Linked DNA regions of Homo sapiens: all the other regions are linked to region 5. The links come from fine-mapping of genetic effects on gene expression. A gene starts in region 5. Each other region holds a variant in brackets. All regions are shown on one strand. Distances are between the middles of the regions. Region 1 overlaps DENND1C (DENN domain containing 1C). Region 2 overlaps CLPP (caseinolytic mitochondrial matrix peptidase proteolytic subunit). Region 3 holds the start of CLPP (caseinolytic mitochondrial matrix peptidase proteolytic subunit). Region 4 overlaps MLLT1 (MLLT1 super elongation complex subunit). Region 5 holds the start of GTF2F1 (general transcription factor IIF subunit 1). Region 6 has its middle 10 kb from the start of MLLT1.

The links.
Region 1: its variant is fine-mapped to the expression of GTF2F1 in whole blood (INTERVAL, PIP above 0.99).
Region 2: its variant is fine-mapped to the expression of GTF2F1 in subcutaneous fat (GTEx, PIP above 0.99). The same link has a PIP of 0.9 or more in esophagus mucosa, pancreas, sigmoid colon, tibial nerve, transverse colon and visceral fat.
Region 3: its variant is fine-mapped to the expression of GTF2F1 in breast (GTEx, PIP above 0.99). The same link has a PIP of 0.9 or more in skeletal muscle.
Region 4: its variant is fine-mapped to the expression of GTF2F1 in whole blood (INTERVAL, PIP above 0.99).
Region 6: its variant is fine-mapped to the expression of GTF2F1 in esophagus muscle (GTEx, PIP above 0.99). The same link has a PIP of 0.9 or more in cerebellar hemisphere.

Annotation. Positions count from the first base shown.
Region 1 is chr19:6,476,412-6,480,494 of GRCh38, reverse strand. It overlaps DENND1C (DENN domain containing 1C), which reads left to right. Exons shown (of 23, transcript NM_024898.4): 2 at 444-508; 3 at 593-636; 4 at 777-826; 5 at 1,439-1,558; 6 at 1,643-1,712; 7 at 3,037-3,117; 8 at 3,212-3,277; 9 at 3,368-3,421; 10 at 3,528-3,638. Among named protein-coding and RNA genes, the nearest start is that of DENND1C, 3.3 kb to the left of the region's middle. RefSeq lists an enhancer at 114-613. The variant T/AAT (reference allele first, on the strand shown) is at 2,086.
Region 2 is chr19:6,367,582-6,371,653 of GRCh38, reverse strand. CLPP (caseinolytic mitochondrial matrix peptidase proteolytic subunit) reads right to left here. Exons shown (of 6, transcript NM_006012.4): 6 at 1,412-3,116. The coding sequence ends at 2,944. Among named protein-coding and RNA genes, the nearest start is that of ALKBH7, 3.2 kb to the left of the region's middle. The variant C/A (reference allele first, on the strand shown) is at 1,956.
Region 3 is chr19:6,359,087-6,363,167 of GRCh38, reverse strand. CLPP (caseinolytic mitochondrial matrix peptidase proteolytic subunit) reads right to left here and starts at 1,637. Exons shown (of 6, transcript NM_006012.4): 1 at 1,396-1,637; 2 at 1,228-1,299; 3 at 626-722. The coding sequence starts at 1,593. It also overlaps a transcript of ACER1 not described here. RefSeq lists an enhancer at 5-962 and a silencer at 1,161-1,390. The variant A/G (reference allele first, on the strand shown) is at 2,364.
Region 4 is chr19:6,210,950-6,215,021 of GRCh38, reverse strand. It overlaps MLLT1 (MLLT1 super elongation complex subunit), which reads left to right. Exons shown (of 12, transcript NM_005934.4): 9 at 984-1,083; 10 at 1,225-1,296; 11 at 1,614-1,685; 12 at 1,852-4,072. The coding sequence ends at 1,980. Among named protein-coding and RNA genes, the nearest start is that of MLLT1, 67 kb to the left of the region's middle. The variant G/A (reference allele first, on the strand shown) is at 2,267.
Region 5 is chr19:6,391,059-6,395,141 of GRCh38, reverse strand. It overlaps GTF2F1 (general transcription factor IIF subunit 1), which reads left to right and starts at 1,978. Exons shown (of 13, transcript NM_002096.3): 1 at 1,978-2,158; 2 at 2,239-2,285; 3 at 3,168-3,240. The coding sequence starts at 2,147. MIR6790 (microRNA 6790) reads left to right here and starts at 2,159; the gene lies at 2,159-2,221. It also overlaps the pseudogene LOC390877.
Region 6 is chr19:6,288,248-6,292,330 of GRCh38, reverse strand. No RefSeq gene overlaps it. Among named protein-coding and RNA genes, the nearest start is that of MLLT1, 10 kb to the right of the region's middle. The variant T/C (reference allele first, on the strand shown) is at 2,042.

The sequences.
Region 1 (4,083 bases), 85 kb before region 5:
CAGACAGACAGATAGATGGATATATATATAGAGAGAGAGAGATGTAATTCACTTAGCTTGGGACTGCACGGGCTGTCCTTCATATCTGTGCAGTCTCATGCCACAGATATAGGAGACAGTCTCATCTTTTCAGGCAGACAGCAGACAGGATCACACACACACTGCCTGCTCACAAAAGCCATGCACTCAGCCACACACAATCATACACAGCCACACACACACAGTCACACTTTCTCACTCCATCCTGTACTTGTGTGTTCAATTAACACTGCTGCACACACAGCCTCACACAACCACACACTCACAGCCACAAACCCCCAGAGTCATGCACATGCCGACGCACCTTGTGGCACATGCACACACAACCACACTTGTGTGCAAAGTGGCAGACACAACCACACATGCATAGAAGCAAGTCTCTGGACCCCTTCTGCATCCCACAGAGGGGGCTCCCCTGCTGTGTTTGATTGGTTCTTCGAAGCGGCCTGCCCTGCCTCCCTGCAGGAGGGTGAGTTGGGAGCCTGGGAGTGAGGGAGTGGGAGGGGAGGGTGGGCCTGGGTCGCTGAACTTAGAGGCGTGCTCTCTTCTACAGATCCCCCCATCCTGCGGCAGTTCCCTCCAGACTTCAGGGACCAGGTATTCAGGCTGGCTCCTTGCTCCCCCAGGGCGAGGGCCAGTCTCCCAGGGGGAGGGGACTTGGTTTCTTGGACCTGGAGCCCAGGGAGGTGGTGCCCGACCTCAGTGGCCAAGCAGTCTGCGCTTTTCTTCACCTCCAGGAAGCTATGCAGATGGTGCCTAAATTCTGCTTCCCTTTTGATGTGGAAAGGTACGGAAGGGCGGGGAGATCCAAGGACTCAGGGACTCAGATCTCTCAGGGGCCCCAAGGACTCAACACCTAGAGACTCAGACATCTGGAAACCCATACACTCGAGGACCCTGAGACTCAGAGACTCAGACACTCAGGGGCCCTGAGAACTAGGGACCTATATACATTAGCATCCAGGGACTCAGACACTCAGGGACCCAGAGATCTAGGGACTCAGGAACCCAGGGACCCAGGGACCCAGGGACTCAGAGACTCAAGGACTCAGGGACACAAGGATTCAGGGACTTCGGAACCCAGAGACTCAGAAACTCAGGGACCAGGGACTCAGGGACTCAGGGACTCAGGGACTGAGGAACCCAGGGACTTAGGGATTCAAGGACCCAGAGATCCAGAAACCCAGAGATCCAGGGACCCAGGGACTCAGGGACCCAGAGATCCAGGGACCCAGAGATTCAGGGACCCAGGGATTCTGAGACCCAGGGATCCAGACATTCAGGGATCCTGACAACTAGAGACCCATACACTCAGGGTCCTAGGAGCTTTGTTGGGGAGCGGGGACATCCTCAGACAGCTGGGATGTCCAGGTCTCTCTAACAGCCCTTCCCACTCCAGGGAGCCCCCCAGCCCCGCCGTGCAGCATTTCACCTTCGCCCTCACAGACCTTGCCGGCAACCGCAGATTTGGTTTCTGCCGCCTGCGGGCGGGTACCCAGAGCTGTCTCTGCATCCTCAGGTGCGGGATATGGGGGTTGGAGGGGGGGATGGGAAAGGCCGAGGCCTAGGGACACTTCGTGGAACCTGTCTCCTCTCTCCACAGCCACCTGCCTTGGTTCGAGGTGTTTTACAAGCTATTGAACACAGTGGGAGACCTCCTAGCCCAGGACCAAGTGAGACCAGCCCCTCTCTCACTCCTGTGGGAGTCCCAGCCCCCACCCCCCTCAACCTCCCAACCCCTCCCTCTCAGATCTCCCAGGCTTGGCAGGGCACACTGTGTCACACCTGTAGTCCCTGCATTTTGGGAGGCCGAGGTGGGAGGATCCCTTGAGCCCTGGAGTTCGAGACCAGCTGGGCAACATAGTGAGACCCCCGTCTCTACAAAATATAAAAAATAATTGGCCAAGTGCTGTGGCTCACGCCTGTAATCCCAGCACTTTGGGAGGACAAGGCGAGCGGATCACCTGAGGTCAGGAGTTCGAGACCGGCCTGACCGACATGGTGAAGCCCCGTCTCTACTAAAAATACAAAAAAAAAAAAAAAAAA[T/AAT]TAGCCGGCCGTCGTGGCACACGCCTGTAATCCCAGCTGCTCAGAGGCTGCGGCAGGAGAATCGCTTGAACCCGGGAGGCGGAAGTGGCAGTGAGCCGAGATCGCGCCATTGCACTCCAGCTTGGGCAACAGGAGCGAAACTCCGTCTCAAAAAATAAAAATAAAAAATTAGCCAGGCGTGGTGGTGCACACCTGTGGTCCCAGCTACTCAGGAGAGCAAGGTGGGAGGATCAACTGAGCCCAGGAGTTCGAAGCTATAGTGAGCTATGATCGCAGCACTGCACTCCAGCCTGGGGGACAGAGCAAGACCCTGTCTCAAGAAAAAAAATTTCTTTTAGATGGAGTCTTCCTCTGTCGCCCAGGCTGGAGTGCGGTGGTGCGATTCCGCCTCACTGCAACCTCCGCATTCCGGGTTCAGGCGATTCTTCCGCCTCAGTCTCCCAAGTAGCTGGGACTATAGGCGCGGCCCACCAGCCCGGCTAATTTTTTTTTTTTTTTTTGTACTTTTAACAGAGACGTGTTTTCACTATGTTGGCCAGGCTGGACACGGACTCCTGGCCTCAGGTGATCCGCATGCCTCAGCCTCCCAAAGGGTTGGGATTACAGGCGCGAGCCACCGCGCCCGGCCTACAAGGAAAAATTTAAATTAAAAAATTTAAAAAGCCGGGCGCGGTGGCTCACGCCTGTAATTGTAGCCCTTTGGGAGGCCGAAGCAGCAGGATCCCTTGAGCCCAGGAGTTCAAGACCAGCCTGGGCAACATAGGGAGACTTTGTCTCTATTATTATTATTATTATTATTATTAATTTCTTTTAAAGAAAGAAAAAAAAAAACTCCCAGGACTGACCTGAGCCCTTGGCTCCTCCCAGACCACTCAACCTTAGTCATAGCCCTCGGAATCCCCAATCCCCACATCTGGCTCAGCCACCCCCGCCCCTCCACGTCCCACCCAGGTCACCGAGGCAGAGGAACTTCTTCAAAATCTGTTTCAGCAGTCCCTGTCTGGGCCCCAGGCCTCAGTGGGGCTTGAGCTGGTGAGTAGCTCCCATTCCCTGGGCGCTGGACCTTAGGTGGATGGGAAGGCTGCGTCCCAGCCATCATGACCACAGAGTCGTGCCTCTTCCCCAGGGCAGCGGAGTGACGGTCTCCAGCGGGCAGGGTATCCCCCCCCCTACCCGGGGGAATAGCAAGCCGGTGAGCGGGGCTCGGGGACCCTGGAAGGTCGGGGGTCCAGGTGAGGCCAGCCTCCTGACTGATTGATCCCCCTGCCAATACCCCCACCAGCTTTCCTGCTTCGTGGCCCCGGACTCCGGCCGCCTGCCATCCATCCCTGAGAACGTGAGTGGGGAGGGGTCTCTGGGGGTGAGAACAGGTCCCGAAACCCGGACCGGGGATGCAAGATCCAGGGGCCCGTCCACGCCCAGAGCGACTCTCTGATCCTCAGAGGAACCTAACGGAGCTGGTGGTGGCCGTGACTGACGAGAACATCGTGGGGCTGTTCGCGGCGCTCCTGGCCGAGAGAAGAGTCCTGCTCACCGCCAGCAAACTCAGCACCGTGAGGCGGGGTCCGCCGGGCCGGGGTGGGAGCAGGGCCTGGCTCCGCCCCGGGGGGCGGGACAAGGGGGCTGATTCCTGGCTCTAACCCTACTGCGCGAGACCCGAGGGCGAAGTCCTGGCCCCGCCCCTTCGAAGGTCTTGGAGAGTTGAACTCTGGCCCCGCCCTCGTGGGAGGGGGCTGCGCTGCAGCTCCTCCTTTTTGGGAGTACTGTGCTCAGGCTCCACCCACTATGGGCCGCAACACGTCTGGCTCCACCCCTCCGGACCCTCAGGGACACTGAGAACTAGGGACTTATACACGTGGGAATCCAGGGACCCAGGGACCCAGGGACTCAGGGACTCAGAGATCTGAGGACCCAGGGACCCGAATACCCAGGGACCTAGGAACACAGGGACTCAGATAACAAGGGGCGCAAAAAACTAGAGACCCATACTCCCAGGGA
Region 2 (4,072 bases), 23 kb after region 5:
GGAGCGCAGTGGCACGATCTCAGGCCCTGAAGATTTGCAACCGCTGCCTCTGGGGTTTAAGTGATTCTCATGCCTCAGCCTCCCGAGTAGCTGGGATTACAGGCAACGAACCATCATGCCCAGCTTTTTTGTTTTGTTTGTTTTTGAGACCGAATTTCGCTCTTGTCACTCAGGCTGGAGTGCAATGGTGCGGTCTTGGCTCACTGCAACCTCTGCCTTCCGGGTTCAAGCGATTCTCCTGCCTCAGCCTCCCGAGTAGCTGGGATTACGGGAAGCTGCCACCACGCCCAACTAATTTTTGTTTTTTATTTTTTTGGTTTTTGGGTTTTTTTTTTTTTGACACACAGTCTCGCTCTGTCACCCAGGCTGAAGTGCAGTGGCGGGATCTTGGCTCACTGCAAGCTCTGCCTCCCGGGTTCACACCATTCTCCTGCCTCAGCCTCCCGAGTAGCTGGGACTACAGGCGCCTGCCACCACGCCCGGCTAATTTTTTGTATTTTTAGTAGAGACAGGGTTTCACCACATTGGCCAGGCTGATCTCAAACTCCTGATCTCAGGTGACCCGTCTGCCTCGGCCTCCCAAAGTGCTGGGATTATAGGCCTGAGCCACCATGCCCGGCCTTTATTTTATTATTTTCTCCCTCTATTGCCCAGGCTGGAGTGCAAGGGCACGATCATAGCTCACTGCAGCCTGGAACTCTTGGGCTCAGGTGATCCTCTCCCCTCAGCCTCTCAAAGCTCTGGGTACTTTTGTATGTATTTTAAATGTGCATAATGCAAACTGCAACACTGTAACTGCTGAGCGTAGCGCCCCCCCGACCCCGGCCCGAATGCTTGCATTTTGAAAAATATTGACCCCATTTCTCCCTCCAGCTACATCTGCCCCCCCACCCTCTGCTCCCCTTGATAGTGTAATTCCTCGAAAGACTTGTCTATGTCTGATATGTTTCCTCCTATCCTTTCTGGATCCACTCCAGCCTGGCTTTTGGCTCCCACAGCACCAGAAAAGGCCTGATTTAAGGCCACCAGTGACATCCACAATGCCGAATCCAATAGCCAGGTCTCAGTCTGACTGTTAATGAGCCTACATGCTGATGCCGCCTACATTTTGTTTTTTTTGAGACAGAGTCTCGCTTTGTCGCCCAGGCTGGAGTGCAGTGGCGCGATCTCCGCTCACTGCAAGCTCCGCTCACTGCAAGCTCCGCTTCCCAGGTTCACGCCATTCTGCCGCCTCAGCCTCCCGAGTAGCTGGGACTACAGGCGCCTGCCACCACGCCCAGCTAATTTTTTGTATTTTTAGTAGACACGGGGTTTCACTGTTAGCCAGGATGGTCTTGATCTCCTGACCTCGTGATCCGCCCGCCTCGGTCTCCCAGAGTGCTGGGATTACAGGCGTGAGCCACCGCGCCCGGCCGATGACACCTACGTTTTTATTTCAACCTCTTGACCCTGATGTCGAGGGACATATCAAAACATCAGGTATAATATATCCAAAATCAACTCCTGATCCCTCCCCAAGCCTGTTCCTTTGCCTACACTTCCCATCTCAGGCGACAGGTCTCCATCTTCCTGCTTTGGGCCATCAGCTCGGAGTTTCTGGAAACTGCTCTCTGTCACATCCCACCTAGCTAGAATCTGACTTTTTCTCATCACTCGGCCAGGGCTGCCATCAGCTTTCGTCTAGATTACTCCAACTATCCTAACTGCTCTCCAGTTTCTGCTCATGGTGCACTCCTCAGGAGTCATAGTCATCCTTATTTTCCTTCCTCTTCTCAAAACCCTCCATGGTTCACATCCCTCCTTTTAGATGTCAGGCCTTTTATGATCTATTCTCAATCACCTCCACTTTTTTTTTTTTGGAGACAGAATCTCGCTTTGTTGCCCAGGCTGGAGTGCAGTGGCGTGATCTTGGCTCACTGCAACCTCTGCCTCCCGGGTTCAAGTGCACCATCACG[C/A]CTGGCTAATTTTCACCTCTACTTTTTGATCTCCTCTCTTCCACCTTCCCTCAGCCACGGGCCTCCTCATAGGTCCTCACATGCCAGGTACAGTCCTGTCACAGGGCCTTTGCACTGGCTGTGCCCTCTGCCTGGACACAGGCTCCACCCCTCACCTCCTTTGAGGCTTTGCTCAACCACCACCTTCTCAGTGAGGGCTTCCCTGATTACCCCATAAAAAACTGTAACACGCTTACCCTCACACTTGCATGCCACCTTTCCTGTTTTTGTTTTTTTTTTTTTTTGAGACAGAGCCTTGCTCTGTTGCCCAGGCTAAAGGGCAGTGGCGTGATCCTGCTCACTGCAACCTCCACCTCCTAAGTTCAAGCAATTCTTCTGCCTCAGCCTCCGGAGTAGCTGGGATTACAGGTGCACCACGCTCGGCTAATTTTTGTATTTTTAGTAGAAATGGGGTTTCACCATGTTAGCCAGGATGTTCTCGATCTCCTGACCTCATGATCCGCCTGCCTCGGGCTCCCAAAGTGCTGGGATTACAGGCGTGAGCCAGCGCGCCTGGCCTGTTTTGTTTTTTTTAGTAACTGTCTACTGCCACAAGAATGGAGCTCTTTTGAGGAGGGTTTCTTGTGTCTTCTTCACAAAAGAACACTGCCTGGAATATAGGATATGATCAGGAGAATCTGTTGAAGGAAGACATGGCTTGCCTCTTGGGGTCAGGACAAAAGCAGAAGGGGCCTGTGAAACACAGATGTGTACACGCTGTCATGGTGCAGAAGGGAGGGTGTCCCAGACGCAGAGCAAAGACCACAAAGATTTAATTTAAAATCACAGTGTCTCAGCTGGAATGCCCCGTCCATAGCGGGCACCCCTGCAAATTAAAAGTTCCTCAAGAGGCCCCTCCAAGCCCAGCAACAAGGGGTGAGCAGGGCCCAGCTGGGGGTCTGGCAGGCCTCTGGCCCCTCCACATGATTCTGGAGAGGAGGCCCAGCTCTCAGGTGCTAGCTGGGACAGGTTCTGCTGCCGGCGCTGCTTCTACAGGCTCCTTCTGCACCAGCGTGGGCTCATCCTCACCGTCCTGGGGAGGGTGGACCAGAACCTTGTCTAAGATGCCAAACTCCTGGGCCTCCATGGGGCTCATGTAGCGGTCCCTCTCCATGGCGGACTCTGGTGGGGAAGCAGGAGGTGAGACACATTAGGGTAAGAGCAGAGACCCAGGGCCAGGTCTGGGTCCTGTTTTGGCCTGAATGTTTGTGCCCACCACCCCAAGTTCATATGTTGAAGCCCCATCCCCTAGTGGGATGGGATTTGGAGATGGGGTCCTTGGGAAGTCATTAGGAGAGATGGGGTCAGGGGCCCCTTGATGGGATTAGTGGCCTTATAAGAGGAGACACCAGTGCACTTGCTCTCTCTCCACCATGTGAAGACACAGCGAGAAGGCGGCCGTCTGCAAGCCAGGAAGAGAGCACTCACCAAGAACCGAATCAGCTGGCACCCTGACCTTGGACTTCCCAGCCCCCAGAACTGTGAGACATAAATCTCTGTTGAGGTCTGTGGTGTTTTGTTAAGCAGCTCAAGCTGACTGAGACATGTCCTCATTCTGCAGTGCCTCAGTTTCCCCTAGGTATCAGTAAAATACCAATTTCAATTTTGTTTTTTAAAAAATTGTTATTGGGCCAGGCACGGTGGCTCACACTTGTAATCCCAGCACTTTGGGAGGCAGAGGTGGGTGGACCACTTGAGGCCAGGAGTTTGGCCTCATGTTTCACCATTGGCCTTCAAAGTTTCACCATGGCCAACATGGTGAAACCCTGTCTCTACTAAAAATACAAAAATGAGCCAGGTGTGGTGGCACACGCCTGTAATCCCAGCTACTAGGGAGGCTGAGGTATGAGAATCACTTAAATCTGGGAGGTGGAGACTGCACCACTGCACTCCAGCCTGGGCAACAAAGCAAGACTCCATCTCAAAAAAAAAAAAAAATTGTTATTGATGTATAATATACACCCAGGAAAGGGCATGATTCGTAAATGTCTGGTGGGATGGATTTTCAGACTGAACATACCCTACAGGACCAGCACCCAGACCAAGAGATGGAATAATGCCAGCACCCCTGAAACCCC
Region 3 (4,081 bases), 32 kb after region 5:
GGTGACAGAACGAGACTCCATCTCAATAAAAAAAAAAAAAAATGCCTCCATCATAAGTGCTCAATCAAAATTGACTACTTTTTTTGGGGAGGGGGAAAAAATCTACCAATTATGATTATTTTTGAGATGGGCTCACTACAGCCTCGACCTCCTGGGCTCAAGTGATCCTTCTCCCTCAGCCTTCCGAGTTGCTGGGACTACAGGCACACGCCACATTGCCCGGCTAATCTTTGTACTTTTTTTGTAGAGATGGGGTCTCACTACGTTACCCAGGCTGGTCTTGAACTCCTGAGCTCGAGCAATCCGCCCGCCTCAGCCTCCCAAAGTGTTGGGATTACCGGTGTGAGCCACTGTGCCCGGCCTAAAATCTACCAATTTTTAAATGTCAGCCGGGTCAGGTTGGCAGAACAGTATGTGCAGGATCAAAGAGGCCACATCCTGACTTGTGAACCGAGGCTCAAAAGCCAGCAACAGGCACCTTTTGGTGGTTTAAAGCCACTTCTGGAACTCTGACGCTCTGCACCCTTTCCCAGAGAGAGAACATCCCTGACCCGGGATTCTGGTCCCCTGAGTCACCCGTGTGCCCTGACGAGTGCCCCTGGCACCCAGGAAAGACCCTGCTCACCAGGGCTGTTGATGTACATGTGGATGGGCTTCTTGTTGCTCTCGGATTGCAGGAAGAGGAGCTGTGCGATAACAAGGCTGGCAACGCTGTCATCGATCTGCAGGTGGAGAGGGCAGGGGTGTCCCCAGATTCGGGGTGGGGAGAGAGTTTTAAGGGAGGCTGGGGATGGGTCAGGGAACCAGGAAGGGGGACCAGAGCCCAAAGTAAAAGGGATGGGGAAGAATTTAGGCCCCAGAAGGGGATGGGGAGAGAGTAGTGGAGAGGACCCAGGGGGTTTGGAGCACAGGAAGGGGGGAGTCAGGGGGCTAGGGACACAGGAAAGGAAGGGGTGAGAATGGCTGGGGAGAGTCTTGAGCGTAGGAATGAGGGGAGCGGTGCCAGGTGTCAGGAAGGAAGTCGGAGATTAAGAGCCGAGGAGCAGAGAAGGGGTGAGGAGCGGGTTGGGGGACCGGGAGCCAGGAGGGGAGTCAGAAGGGGAGGGAAGGGGGTTAGAAGGGGAGCGGAGCCTGAGGGAAAGTCTGGGGCCAGGGAAGGAGGGGCGCAGGGAGTGTCGGCAGGCGCTTGGGAGAGTCCTGGGGAGGGTCCCGGCGCGGGGCGCTCACCGGGCCCATGACGCACACGATGCGCTCCCGCAGCAGCCGCGAGTAGATGTCATAGGCGCGCTCGCCGCGACCCTGGGGGTAGAAAGATGGAGGTGAGGGGCCGGGGCAGCCAGCCGATCCCCACCCAGCCCGGAGCCCCCGAACCGTGTCCCCGCCCGGCCGCCGTACCGTCTGCTCCACCACGATGGGAATGAGCGGGAGAGCCCGGGTCGCCGTCGCGTGCAGGCACCGCTGCAGGGCCAGGCCGTTCTGGAGTGTCCGCTGCGGCGGCCGCTGCGCTGGAAAGTGAGCGGCGAGGCGAGGCCCCAGCGCGGGGTACCTGCATGACGCCACCCGGGCCCCCCCTACCAATATTCCGGGCCACATCCCTCCGCACGCCCCGGTCGGCTTCCGTCCGATGGCGGAACTACAGCTTCCGGCGTGCTTTGCGCCTGGGAGCTCGCTCGCTAGGCCGCTCACTTCCAGGAGTCTGGGCGGGCGCCATTAAGGGTGAGGCGGGGATAGGGACGGAGCCTGAAAGGGAGGAGCCAATGAAGTAAATTGAGTGGGCAGGGCTGGAGAAGTTTTAGAGTCTCCAGTTCGAGTCCCCTTACCGACCAATTCGTCTTCTTTTTTTTTTTTTTTTGAGACGGAGTCTTGCTCTGTCACCCAGGCTGGAGTGCGGTGGCACGATGTTGGGTCACTGCAACCTCTGCCTTCTGGGTTCAAGCCATTCTCCTGGCTCAGCTGCCCCAGTAGCTGGGATTACAGATGCACACCACTGCACCCGGTTAATTTTGTTATTTTTAGTAGAGATGGGTTTCACCTTGGCCAGGCTGGTCTTGAACTCCTGACCTCGTGATCTTCCCACCTCGGCCTCCCAAAGTACTGGGATTACAGGCGTGAGCCACCGCGCCCGGCCTCGTCTTCGTTTTCTACTGTTTCTGCTTTATTTATTTTTATTTTTTTGAGACAGAATCTCACTCTGTGGCCCAGGCTGGAGTGCAGTGGCGCCATCCTAGCTCAATGTGGCCTCAAATTTCTGGGCCCAAGCAACCCTCCCTCCCACCTTGCTCTCCAGAGTAGCTGGGACTACAGTTGTGTGCTACCACATCTGGCAAATATATATATATATGTATTAGAGATGGGGTCTTACT[A/G]TGTCGCCCAGGCTGGTCTCAAACTCCTGGCCTCAAGTGATCCTCCCACCTTTGCCTCCCAAAGTGCTGGGACTACAGGCATGAGCCACCACACCCCACTTATTCCTTATTTTAAAAATAGCTGCAGGGCCGGGCACAGTGGCTCACGCCTGTAATCTTAGCACTTTGGGAGGCTGAGGTGGGCGGATCACGAGGTCAGGAGATCGAAACCATCCTGGCTAACACGGTGAAACCGCGTCTCTACTAAAAATACAAAAAATTAGCCGGGCGAGGTGACGGGCACCTGTAGTCCCAGCTACTCAGGAGACTGAGGCAGGAAAATGGTGTGAACCTGGGAGGTGGAGCTTGCAGTGAGCTGAGATGGCGCCTCTGCACTCCAGCCTGGGCGACAGAGCCAGACACCGTCTCAAAAAAAAAAAAAAAAGCTGCAGTGTTCCCACAGCTCATCTTGGAAGAGGGGTCCCAGAGAGGACTTAGCCTGGGTCTTGGCCTTGAAGAGCTTCCAGCCTGGTGTGGCCGACTTCTACTGAGACCTCCTCATTCATTTTTTGGCCACCTGTGGAGTAGATTGTGGGAGCCCAGAGAAGGGTGTTGTGGATTCTTCCTGGAGATCAGACCGGAAAGCATTCCTAGGAGAAGCAGGTATTGGAATTGGGCTTTGCAGGATAAGTAGGAGTTTGTTAGCTGGGGAAAGGCATTTCCAGCAGAGGAAAAAGAATGGGCAAAATGGTGGAAGTAGGAAGATTGCTGGTAATGTTGGGACTTCTCTTTTTTGCCACACCTTCTCAAGCCAGATTCTTTTTCATCATTCAGTTCAATGTCACTATCTAAGAGGTGCCCACTGCTTCATCCCCAAAGTCTAGAATAGTGCCTGACACACAGTAGGTGCTCATTAAATACACATTGAACCAAGAGATGAAGAGGTGATAAAGGAGGTAGGTAGAGGGCTTTGGAGGCATCTGCAGAGTGGGGATAATGATAACCTACCTCCTAGGTTTGTGCAGAAAGTCCTCAGAAAGGGTCCAAAAATGTGTAAAAAGTGCTCAGTTTGAATGATTTATTGCTGTGTTAGATCAGGGACCATGGAAGTCTGAGAAGTCTTCAGGTCCTCCCACATGGGAGTCTACTTGAAGTGTTTTTTTCTTTTTTTTCCCGGGGCAGTCCTTCGAATCACAGCAGATTCAGGCGAGGTGTTGTGGTGGCTCATGCCTGCAATCCCAGCACTTTGGGAGCCCAAGACATGTGGATCACCTAAGGACAGGGGTTTGAGACCAGCCTGACCAACACAGTGAAACTCCGTCTCTATTAAAAATACAAAATTATCTCGGCATGGTGGTGAATGCCTGTAATCCCAGCTACTTGGGAGGCTGAGTCAGGAGAATCACTTGAACCCAGGAGGCAGAGGTTGCAGAGAGCCGAGATCACACCACTGTACTCCAGCCTGGGCAACAAGAGCAAAACTCTATCTCAAAAAAAAAAAAAAAATCACAGCAGATTCAGAGAGACTCCTGAAGTGGATTTTGATGTATAAGAAGTTTACCAAGCAGTAAGCGGTAGACTCTTTTTTTGTTTTGAGTCAGTGTCTCGCTCTGTCACCCAGGCTGGAGCACAGTGGTGTGATCAGAGCTCACTGCAGCCTTGAACCTCTGGGCTCAAGCTATCCTCTCACCTCAGCCTCCCAAGTAGCTAGGACTAGAGGTGCATGTCACCACATCTGG
Region 4 (4,072 bases), 180 kb after region 5:
GCGTCGCCTGGGCAACGTGAGCCAGACCTGGAGCTGCCAGAGCCGGGAGGCAGCTGCAGAGAGTGGCCCCAGCCTGAGGCCACTGAGGGGCAAGTTTAAGAGATGAACGGAGCCTGCGCCGGGGCAGGAGCAGGCCAGGAACAGGGACAATGGCTGTGCTGCCCACCGGGAAGTCCGGTGTGCTCGAGCCGCTTCTGGCACCTCCTTGTTCACTAGGAGGCCTGGGGTTTGCTGTGTTTTAAACGTGTTGTGAAGTGATGGTTGTCAGGGGCCCCTCTCACTGGATCAAGCCCAAAATATCCCTGGCAGAGCGGGACCCCAGGCACGCAGAGTGAGAGAAAAATGGGCCCAGGCTCTGTGTGTGGTCATAGCAGCCTCCTTTCACAGATGGGGAAACTGAGGCAGAGGTCAAAGACCTGCCCCCCAGGGTAGGGGAGGTTGAGAGCTTGGACCTCTCCCCACCACCAGATACCCCTGTTTAGGACCACACCCTCTAGGGTCAGGGGGGCCGATGTGACTGATGGAGGCCTGCTGTCCAGAGCAAACCAGGGTCAGGCGGCCAGGGGAGCATCGGAGGGACGGGCGGCCATGGAAGCCCTAGGGCAGTGCTGGGAGAAGAGGGCAGGTTTTCAGCAGGCAGCTCCTCCTCCCCTTGTTAAAGCCACAGAACCAAGTCAGAGGACCACAGCCCAGCAAGGCCCATTGGCTGGGGGGCTTTGTGTCCCGGGTATCCCGGAGCACTCTTGGCCTGCTCGGGCGGCCCCCAAAGGGCCTCTGGGTGGCCTGGTTTCCTTGGGGTTCTTTCCTCTTGGTGGCCACACACAGTATTTTTAAGTTGAGGTTCCTGCGCAGAGGTGAATGGAGCTGTTGGGGGTGTGTGGGCTCAGGCACCGACTCCGTGCGGGGCAGAGGCTTGAGCCTGGGGGTGGGGTGGGGGCCGTGGTGGCGGCAGGGGCCTGATGCGCCCCCGTGTGTCGGTTCAGGTTGAGCTTCAGCGACAGCGAGAGTGACAACAGCGCCGACTCCTCCCTGCCCAGCCGTGAGCCCCCACCCCCCCAGAAGCCACCCCCGCCCAACAGCAAGGTGAGCCTGGGGCCTGCAGGCAGGGGGTGCACCAGAGGCCGGGCTTAGCCCTGGGCCGGGCTGTCCTAGGAGGGTTTGTGGGGCCTTCGGGGCTGGGGAGGGTGTGGGCCACAGCTCAGCAGAGACCTGGGTTCCCTGCAGGTGTCAGGCCGGAGGAGCCCCGAGTCCTGCAGCAAGCCTGAGAAGATCCTCAAGAAGGGCACCTACGACAAGGTGGGGGGGCACCTACGACAAGGCGGGGAGGCTACGGAGGGGTGGGTGGTGGGAGTTGCAGCCAGTGGAGGACCCCAGAGCCCCCCAACACCCCACAGTTGGACTCTTCCTGGGCAGGAGCAGGGACAGTCCTTCCTCCCCTCCCGGTGTGGCCTTGGAGCTGAGGGGCTGCCCCTGCAGCCTTGGGCCTTCCTTGGTTTGGATGTGGCTACCTCTGTCCTGTGCTGGGATGGACTGGGTCATGGGTGGGGCTGGGCATGGGAGCAGGAAGGGTCCAGGGCCCCCACACGCTGCTGAGACCTGCCCCCCCTCCCCAGGCCTACACGGATGAGCTGGTGGAGCTACACCGGAGGCTGATGGCGCTGCGGGAGCGCAACGTGCTGCAGCAGGTATCGCCCCCCTGAGGGTCCTGCCCGGCAGAGGTCGGGGTGCCTGTGAGGAGTGTGGGCTGCGGGGGCCCCTGGTGCTGCCCCAGGAGCCCCTACCTCTGTTAGGGAACAGGGCAACCCCACCCTTGGCCCCCTGCCCCTGAAGCCACCTGCCACCACCTTACAGATTGTGAATCTGATCGAGGAGACTGGCCACTTCAATGTCACCAACACCACCTTCGACTTCGACCTCTTCTCCCTGGACGAGACCACCGTGCGCAAACTGCAGAGCTGCCTGGAGGCCGTGGCCACATGACCCTGGGCCGCGTGCCGGGCCCCCACCGCCGGGGTCCTGGGAGGCTGCAGCCAGGCCTCGCCTGCCCTCCTCTCCCGTCTCGCCTGCCCGCAGCACTGCCTTAGCGACAGCCCTGTCCTCGCCCGCACAGCCCGCTGCACTTTCCTCGGCGGCTCCCTGCCCACTCTCCCCGCTCCATCGCCAGGAGCCCTGGGGCCGGGCTGGGCCACACGGGAGCCGCCCCCCGGGCTCTCTGGGCTCCCCTCAGAGAGCGGCTGGTGTTGAAGGCAGCTCTGGGCAGAGACAG[G/A]GCCGGGGGCCCCTCGCCCAGCCTTGGGACCAGCCCCCACTGCTCGGCGGGCTGTGCGGCGTCGCTGCCCCAGCCTTTCTGAGCAGCGGATCGACGGCTGGGGGGCATCTCCAGCCTCCCGAATGGTTCAGAACACACCCTCCGCCCACCCTGGACCTCAGAAGGCCCTGCCTGTGTGTCTGCGTCGTCCTCCGTGTAGACCTAGCGCCGGCTCCTCCCCGGCTCGCGCTGCGCTGGGGTCTGTGCTGTATAGTTCTCTCTATTATATATGTGTGTGCACTGTCTGGTCAAGAGCAGTGTCCATGTGCGTTTCTGTGGCAGCAGTGCACGTGGGGTGGGTGGGGGGTGCGTACGGTGGGGCTTGTAGGTTAAGATGTCTCTGCGGTGGTGTGGGGCTGGAGGCCGAGCCAGGCACGGCAGCTGGCCCTCTCCAGGCGCATGGAGGAATTCTCCCTTTGCCGTTCCAAGGATGCCGCCGCCTCCTACCGGGGCTCCCGGGGGGGTCAGCCAACACTACAAAGGGCAGCGAGTCCTCAGGGCGCCCGGGAGCCACCAGTCTGCTCTCGGGCTCTACTCAGACTAGCGCCAACAGTCTCCGCGGACAGACTCGCATCAGCCGCCCTGGGGCTCGGCCTCCTCCCATAGGCTCCTCTTCCTCTCTTTCATTCAAGTCTTCAAACTTTGAAAAAAATATGAGCTTTTGCCAAATAAGACGGGATAGTTTATGGAGTTTTCTGAGGCGCATTGAACTCTGGTCAGCCCCTCGAGCGTGGGCTCGGCCATCAGCAGGCCCGGTGGGTTGGCCGGGCTGGCCCTCCCAGGCTGCCTTTCTCTCTGGTCGCGGCCTGGCCCGCCCCGGCCTCCACCGCCGCAATTCATGCTGGTGCCGCGCCCGCAGCCCCACTCCTGGTATGCCTGAGATTCTCCAGGGGCCAAGCCGGTCCTCCTTCCCGGCCCACTCTTCCAGGGCCAGGACGCTCCCGCGGAGCCAGCCCATCGTGGCTGGGGGTCCCAGGGGCTGGAGGCCTGCCTGGTTAGCCTCTGTTTCCCAGACATTGACTCGAGGCGCCTCCAGTCCTCTCAACCCCCTGACTTTCAAGTCCTTTCAAGTCCTTGTGCCCTGACCAAGTTATGAGGAAAAGAGGGCTGAGGGCCTGGAGGTGGGCTCGCACCCCCTCGAACCCACCTAGATGTCTCCTCCTCCCCAGCCTATGAGTTCAGACTTGGGGGGCTCCATCTGTCCCTCCCTGAGGTCCCTCATCTTGTCCCTGCTCTGATTCTGTCAGCAGATCCTGAACACTCCTTGGTGGGGACCCATGCCTCCAAGGCTGCCCCCAATGCCAGCTGTCCTGGGGAAACTCCCCAGAACTCTCGGGGAAAGGCCCGAGAACCTTCGGAGGAAGCCTCCGGGACTCCTCGCCACCTGCTCTGTTTCTCTCCCGGCCCCACTGCCTTCAGGTATCAGGAAGAGGGCAGGCCCCTGTGCCCCCTCTCCCCTTCCCAGGGCGGCCAACAATACTCCACCATGGGGCGCTTCCTTTCTTCTCTGGAAACTAAGACATTGGACTGAAGGAACTGGCCTGAGGGGGGCTGACCGGGGGCCCGTGCTGCTGGGAGCTCTACGCACAAGAGGCCGCCGGGGTCACGGACAGGAACCTCAGCCCAGGGTGCTGGCCTTTCTCCTTCGCAGGAGTCCCCCAAAATCCACACAGCGACTCGAGCAGCCTTCCACTCAGCCAGAGGAGGGTCGGGCTCCCCCGCCTGCTCTCGGTGGTGGCGTCTGGCCCTTCCTGCCGTTTCCAAGGC
Region 5 (4,083 bases):
GTTCAGTGAGAGGCAGGGACTTGCCCACGCTCCCAGTCTCATCCCATACTCCCCTTCTCTCTGTTCCAGCCCCATATCCTACTCCCCTTCCCTCTGTCCCAGCCCCAACCCATACTCCCCTTCTCTTTGTCCCAGCCCCAGGGGGCTTCAGTTCTTTGAATTTGAAACTCACTTCTCCCTTGCTGTTTCCTCTGCTTGGAAAATCCCTGCCTGCCCCAGTTCCTTCTGGCCACAACTTCCATCTGGCCTTCTCTAGCCTCCATCTAGAGCTTCCCCCCATCACTCCTTGTCTGAGACACCTATTTCCTCCACAGCAATGGCCACAGTCTGTCATGATCTTCTCTGTTTACTCGTTCTTTTTTTTTCCTTCTTTTCCTTCTTTTTTTTTTTTTTTTTTTTTTGAGACGGAGTTTCGCTCTTGTTGCCCAGACTGGAGGGCAATGGCGCGATCTCGGCTCACCACAACCTCTGCCTCCCAGGTTCAAGCGATTCTCCTGTCTCAGCCTCCCGAGTAGCTGGGATTACAGGCATGTGCTACCACGCCCGGCTAATCTTGTATTTTTAGTAGAGACGGGGTTTCTCCACGTTGGTCAGGCTGGTCTCGAACTCTCAACCTCAGGTGATCCGCCCGCCTCGGCCTCCCAAAGTGCTGGGATTACAGGCATGAGCCACCGTGCCCAGCCGTTTACTCGTTCTTGTCTCCCCCAAGCCAGACACTCCATGAGGGCAAGGACTATTTCTGCCTCCCTCATTCCTATATTCCTAGGGGTTGGCGGTTCCTGACATTTAGTGGTGGATGAGAAATAAATGAAAACAGACACATCGACGGTGTCTGTAGTTCATGGCCCAACTTTTGTGTCTTGCCCGCCTTCCCTTTGCTTAGCCAACTCCTATGCATCCCTCAGTGCCCAACTGAAACCTCCCCTCTTCTCTGAGCCCTCAGAGCCCCGCTGTGCTTCTCCTGCTCCTTCCTGGGTTGTAGATTCCCATGCTGTGACTCTGTCTCTTCCACGACACTGTAACCCTCGAGAGGACACTGTAATCCTCCGTGGGGAGCTGGTTTGACAGATTCACCTTGCGGGGCCCCGAACCCAGGAGGTGCTGGAGTATTTGCGAAGTGGAGCAATGAATGGTTGCGCCGTGAGCATGCGCAGTTGTGTTACTGCCATGATTCGGGGGATGTGTGCATGCCTGGAACGGGGTAGGGGATCCTGCATCTCCCTCCTGTTCTCGGCAGCTTCCTTCCCTTCCCCCCAGGAAGCCAGCCAGCCGCCCCCGCGACGTTACCCTTCTCCTGGGGCCTCAGAGCCCTGCCCATCTCGGGCAGCTTGGACTTGCAAAGACCCATCCGGCCAGCAGCTCTTGGGGTGGTCGCGCCCCGACCCCGCCCAGGCTCTGACCCCTCCTGGCTCGGCTCAACGTCACAAGGGTCCCCGCCCCGGTCATTTTGCGGGAATGACGGGGTCCACCCCTTCGGGGTAGGGGGAGGAAATGAACCCCAAACAGACCCATGGGGAGCCAAGCGGCGGTTCGACCCGACCCGAGTAGGCCTCGGTTGCTATGGTGACGCGGCCTTCTGGGCCCCCCAGGTCCAGAGCGGCAAGGCGCATGCGCAAAGTGCCTGGGAGCCCGCAAGGGGGATTCGTCTCCCTCTTCCCACCCAGGATGCCCCACGGTCCTTGGGTGCTGACGTCACGAGAGAGGGCGGTCCCCCATTTGATGAAGTTAACCGCGTTATATACAAGAGCGCCAGCGACAGAGGCCCGTTAGTTTATCTCAGACTCGGCCTAGGTTTGCTGAGTCTAAAAAGGGACCGCGGTGGACCTTTTGAGGTGACCATAGCCGCCGAGGAGCATAAGTGACTGCGCACTGAGGTGGCCACAGTCGCTAAGAAGGTTGCCATCGCGACGCGGCTGCTCGAGGGTTTCGCTTCCGGGTTAGGCGGCCGCAGAAGCGTAGACCGAGTAGCTTGAGCGCCTCTTCCGGTTACCTTTTCCCAGCGCCAGAGGCGCCTAGGGTTGGGGTCCTCGCTCAGGCACAGAGACCCGACACCGAGCGGCGGCTTCCCCGGGATCGAGGGACGCGCACGCCAGAGGAGACGAAAGGAACCCGGGTCGGACCAGATCGGAACCACTGACCATTGCCCATGGCGGCCCTAGTGAGTGTGGATTTGGCGGGGTTCGGGGGTTCCGACGGCGACCTCGGCGACCCCTCACTCACCGCTTCCTCTTTCCGCAGGGCCCTAGCAGCCAGAATGTCACTGAATACGTCGTTCGAGTTCCTAAGTAAGTCCCCAGCCCCATCTCCCACTCCTCTCCACCCCCCAAAAATGAAAACCTTCACGATCTTCTTAGCCAGCCATTTCTGGCCCTGTCTGTGGTTCTCCCTCCAGACCGGGAGAGACTTGGAGGGCAGGGCTGGGATTAAGCTGAGGCTTCTCTGGGGACAACACTGCTTTTTTGAACGAATGAATGAATGAGTGCATTAATACACGGTGATCCAGCCCCCTGGCCTAACCTTCGAGGAGTATATGGTCCCATGATGCCCAGGCCAGCTGTAAGGACATATTCCTCGTCCTGTTTCAAAGTGGTCAGGCTGTCTTTCCTTTCCAGGCCTTTGTACATCCTGTTCCTCTGCCATGAGTGCCTCCCCTCAACCCCTAAACTGTGACTCTGCTGGGTGAATTCTTGATGATTCTGCAAAACTCAACTCCAGTATCTTCCTCCTCCAGGAAATACTCCCTGCCTGTCCTCCCTCCTCCCCAAGGCTGAGTTCACAATAATCTCCACATCTTGGGTTCCCCCAAATCTTCGTCCCTCCATCTGCTCTTCTTCTGCCTGGGGTCAGGAGAGGATGGGTCTAGCTTCTCTGGCAGACTGGGAATCCTTGGAGTCTTCCGTATCCAGTGTTGCCAGGCAAAACAGGCTGAATGAAGCTGGGTGGGTTTGTTGAGTGAATTGAATTGAATTAATGATTCAATTGAATGGAATGATTGAATTGAATTAATGGTTCAATTGAATTGAGTGATTGAATTAAAGTAATGATTTGATTGAATTAACGATCCAGTTGGGTGGTTGATTGAATTAATGGTTCAATAGCATTGACTGATTAAATTAATGATTGAATTGCTGTATTGGATTGACACTACCTCTTCTCATCCACTCCAGGAATACAACCAAAAAATATAACATCATGGCTTTTAATGCAGCCGACAAAGTCAACTTTGCTACGTGGAATCAGGTAAGTCTCTGAGTCCTGGGGGTCAGGGGCTGGGGTGGTGAGAGAACTTGACCCTGACCTTGGTGGTTGTGATAGTTGCTTAACTGTCATAGTCACTAAGTCTTAATTTTCTCACTTTTCTCCAAGTGAAGAAAAGATAGATGACAAAGGGTTGGGTGCAGTAGTTCACACCTGTAATCCCAGCACTTTGGGAGGCTGAGGCAGGAAGCTTGCTTAAGGCCAGGAGTTTGAGACCAGCCTGGGCAATACAATAGCAAGACCCCAACTCTACAAAAAAATTAAAAAGTTAGTTGGGGCTGATAGCGTGGGTCTGTAGTCCTACATAGGAGGCTGAGGTAGGAGGATCGCTTGAGCCCAGGGGTTCAAGGCTGCAGTGAGCTATGATTGTACGACTGCACTCCAGCCTGGATAACAGAGCAAGACCCTGCCTCAAAAAAAAAAAAAAAAAAAAAAAAAAAAAAACGGAAATGGCAAAGGCCCAGGCCTAGCTCCTGGGTGTCCCTGTAAGTTAGGTTTGGTAGGCCCACCAGAGGCCTCTCCTTAAAGGAGAACATTTAGAAGCTGTGCCCACTGTTGGACATTTTTGGCCATGGTTTATCTGGGCAAGGGAGGGGACTGGGCTGGGGGCTTTCCCAGAGCCCCTGCCATCAGAGGCTCTAGAAAGGACTTTGGGAGCCATTAAAGCATCTTCAATTGGGAAGTTGTAGTGTGTGTGATCTGGCTGCTATGGGGAGACAAACTGTGGGTTTGAGGGCAAATAAACGGAGACCAAGGTAGAAGCAACTGGACTGGTCTAGGTGAGTCCTGGCAGGGCACTGGAGGCAGTGGAGGTTATGAGATGTG
Region 6 (4,083 bases), 100 kb after region 5:
AAGGCATCTCTTTTTCCTCTTCCAACCTTATATCCTTGAGTCCCAGTGACCTTTGCAGGTGCCACTCATAGCTGCGAGTGCAACCTTCACCCATGCAGCGGGAAGGCCTAGTGGGTAGGAATATTCGCACTTACCTACATACCACCCTATCCTTCTGCTGTTGGTAACCTTTGGGTTCCCTAGACCTTATCTATGCTTCCATCCATGAAGCAGGAGGGCTAACTGGCAGGAATTAGTCATGCTCACCTGGGCTGTGCCTCTCAACTCCTGCTGTCATCTGCCTCAGGTCTAATGTCCCATTTCAGGACTTTAAAGTGAAGCTTGGGACAAAAAAGGTGACTCAGATGGGTCTATGGACCCATTAAATTAGTCCCATGTGGCCCTCGCCAAATTGCAGATAGCAACTGGAGGGGGCTGCTCCTCTACTGCCTCTCTATCATAAGCAGGTGAAGCCGTGAGGCCAGGTCCTCCTCAAACAAGGGAGAGAAAGGGAGTCCCAGAAATTGGGGACCTGACCTAATAAGGTGCCTCCCTGATACAGTTTGGCTCTGTGTCTCCACCCAAATCTCATCTTAAATTATACTCTCATAATTCCCACATGTTGTGGGAGAGACTCAGTGGGAGGTCATTGAATCATGGGGATGGTTTCCCCCATACTGTTCTCATGGTAGTGAATAAGTCTCATGAGATCTGATGGTTTCATAAAGGGTTTCTGCTTTCACTTCTTCCTCATTCTCTCTTGCTTCTGCCATGTAAGAAGTGCCTTTCTCCTTCTGCCATGATTGTGAGGTTGCAGTGAGTTGAGATTGTGCCACAGTACTCCAGCCTGGGTGACAGAGCGTGTCTCTGTCTTAAAAAATAAATAAATAAATAAATCACTGGAACGCCTTTGACCCTCAGACTCTGGAGAATCTCCTCATGATGTGGAACTGTGAGTCCGTTAAACCTATTTTCCTTCCCAGGCTTGGGTATGTCTTTATCAGCAACATGAAAACGAACTAATACACTCCCTAACGGAAACAAAAGTAACCCCACAGAGAAAAGCTCCCTGTAGTCACAAGACTATGTTGACTCCTGGCGTGGTGGGGAAGAAGACCTGAGATGCTGCTTACAGTCGTGCTAAGAGAGGAAGGGGGCCTGGGTTGGGGAGGAGAACTGAAAGGCCTGCTCCAGAGTCCAGGAGGTGGCTACCTTCCTCCCTTCAACCCAGGGCTCCTGGATGGTAATAGTGGTCTGAACCATCAGAGCTTGGGAAAGGAGCCCTAGAATCCATCTGTCCTTCTGGACCATCTGGAAGTCTGGTCCTGGACCCGGCAACCTGTGTCTCCAGGGACAGGCTGCCCCTACAATGGTTCCCACTGCAAACCAGACAGGGTTGAGGTGGCCTCCCCGCACTGCCCAGACAGTCTCTCCTGAAGTGGCCTGGCCTGCCACATTTGCAGCAGACAACGGGTGCATCTCAGGGACTATGGAGTCCGTGAAGCTTCAGGGCAGGTATTAGAGCTTTTGCCTTTTTTTCCGTATCTCCTCTCTCTTTTCTGGACTTCCTCCAAGTTCCCACAGCAAAGTCTAAGGTGACCACTCCCAGGAGGCCCTCCAAAGTACCATCTGGCCCTGCAGCCTGTTTCTGAAGCTCCCTCCTGACATCAGGGCCTGACTGTGTCATAAACTCATCCTCTAGGATCAGATGTCCCTCTCCTCAATCAGGACTTAGGTGTGTTTTACCAAGGCCTCTCTTAGCCTTTCCAGGAAGGCAGTGGGACTCACGCTTAATCCCTGTCTACCATGGATAGCTTAGTGTAATTGAGAGGCTTTGTCCTAGTCCTTCGTATGCCCTCTGGTATGCACACCTGAAAGTGTTTCCTCTTCCATTCTTTTTTTTTTTTTTGAGATGGTGTCTTGCTCTGTCGCCGAGGCTGGAGTGCAGTGGCATGATCTCGGCTCACTGCAACCTCCACCTCCCAAGTTCAAGTTATTCTCCTGCCTCAGCCTCCTGAGTAGCTGGGATTACAGGCATGTGCCACCACATCTGGCTAATTCA[T/C]TTTTGTATTTTTAGTAGAGATGGGGTTTCACCATGTTGGTCAGGCTGGTCTAGAACTCCCGACCTCGTGATCTGCCCACCTCGGCCTTCCAAAGTGCTGGGATTACAGGTGTGAGCCACCGTGCCTGGCCTCCTTTTCCATTTTCTTTTTTTTTTTTTTTTTTGAGACAGAGTCTTGCTCTGTCATCAGGCTGGAGTGCAGTGGCATGATCTCAGCTCACTGCAATCTCTGCCTCCCAGGCTCAAGTGATTCCCTGCCTCAGCCTCCCAAGTAGCTGGGACTACAGGTGTGCACCACCATGCCTGGCTATTTTTTTTGTATTTTAGTAGAGATGGGGTTTCACCATGTTGGGCAAGATGGTCTTGATCTCCTGACTTCATGATCCGCCCATCTCAGCCTCCCAAAGTTCTGGGATTACAGGTGTGAGCCACCACGCCTGGCCCCATTCTTTTGTCTCATCATTGAGGTCCCATTTAGGGTTCTTCAGTGGTACTGCTATTCTTCCAATCAGATAAGTCTCATCCCCTTCCCTGGCCCTATATAAGATATAAAGCTCATCCCCAAAATTCTGTGCCACTTTCAGGGTGGCCTGCTTTTCAGTGGTGGTCAGGGTTTGATTCAAAAGTAACATGAAGCCGGGTGCAGCTCATGGCTGTAATTCCAGCACTTTGGGATACCAAGGTGGGCAGATCACTTGAGGTCAAGAGTTTGAGACCAGCCTGGCCAATATGGTAAAACCCCATGTCTACTAAAAATATAAAAATTAGCCAGTGTGGTGGTGCATGCCTGTAGTCCCAGCTACTTGGGAGGCTGCGGCAGGAGAATCACTTGAACCTGGGAGGTGGAGGTTGCAGTGAGCCAAGAGAGTGCCACTGCACTCCAGCCTGGATGACAGAGTGAGACCCCATCTCAAACAAAAACAAAAACAAGAGTAACATGACATCTTTCCAGGAGAGCTCAAATACTTGGGTTAAGTTCTGGAAACTCTCTATATACCTGTGAGGGCCATCTGAAAACTTGCCAAGATCTCCCCTTAAATTTGCCTTAAGTTCTATAGAGAAAAGGAAAACTGAACTTCAATGGGACCATATTCACCAGGCATCTGTTTTTGGGCAGTTGAGACTGGGACCTGCCTTAAACAAGGATTACTATGCCGGGGCAAGCTTGAGAGAGAACCTGGATAGGGAGGAGTTGAGGGGATTGATTCCCCTGCTGGAGGTACCTCTGGGGTATGCTTCCCTATTTCTCTGGGATTACCCCTTGCAGCTTCTCCTGAGAAGGCCATTAGGACAGCTGAATCAATCCTACAATGTTGGCAAAGGTCCAGATTACCCTGCAAGGCAAAGAAGGCCTGCATGTATGGGACCTTGGACCATTTATTTGCCCTTGTGTTTACAGAAAAGCTTCCTTCCTGAGGCCATGCTTCTGTTCTGTGCCTCAAGGTGCCTTGCACCAAGATGGCAACCAAGGAAATGACAATAACATTTTTCCCACAAAATTATGTACAGATACCAAGGCACACTTTGCTCATCTGTGCTACTCTTAACCTTCCATTTTATACTTTTGATGACTAAGCCAAATGCTCATTCTATCCAGTAATTTCTCTGTTTTGCAGCAACATTCTTAACATTTAACATTGTAGGCTGGATGCGGTGGCTCATACCTGTAATCCCAGCCCTTTGGGAGGGCGAGGCAGGTGGATGACCTGAGGTCAGGTGTTCAAGACAAGCCTGCCCAACATGGTGAAACCCCATCTCTATTAAAATACAAAAATTAGCCAGGCATGGTGGTGCATGCCTGAAATCCCAACTACTTTGGAGGCAGATGTTGCAGTGAGATAAGATCACACCACTGCACTCCAGCCTGGGCGACAGAGCAAGGCTCTGTCTCAAACACACACACACACACACACACACACACACGCGTGCGCACAGAAATTTAATGTTGTATATAAAGAAGAGATAGGAGCTGGGTGCAGTGGCTCATGCCTGTAATCTCAACACTTTGGGAGGTCAAGGTGGGTGGATCACCTAAGGTCAGG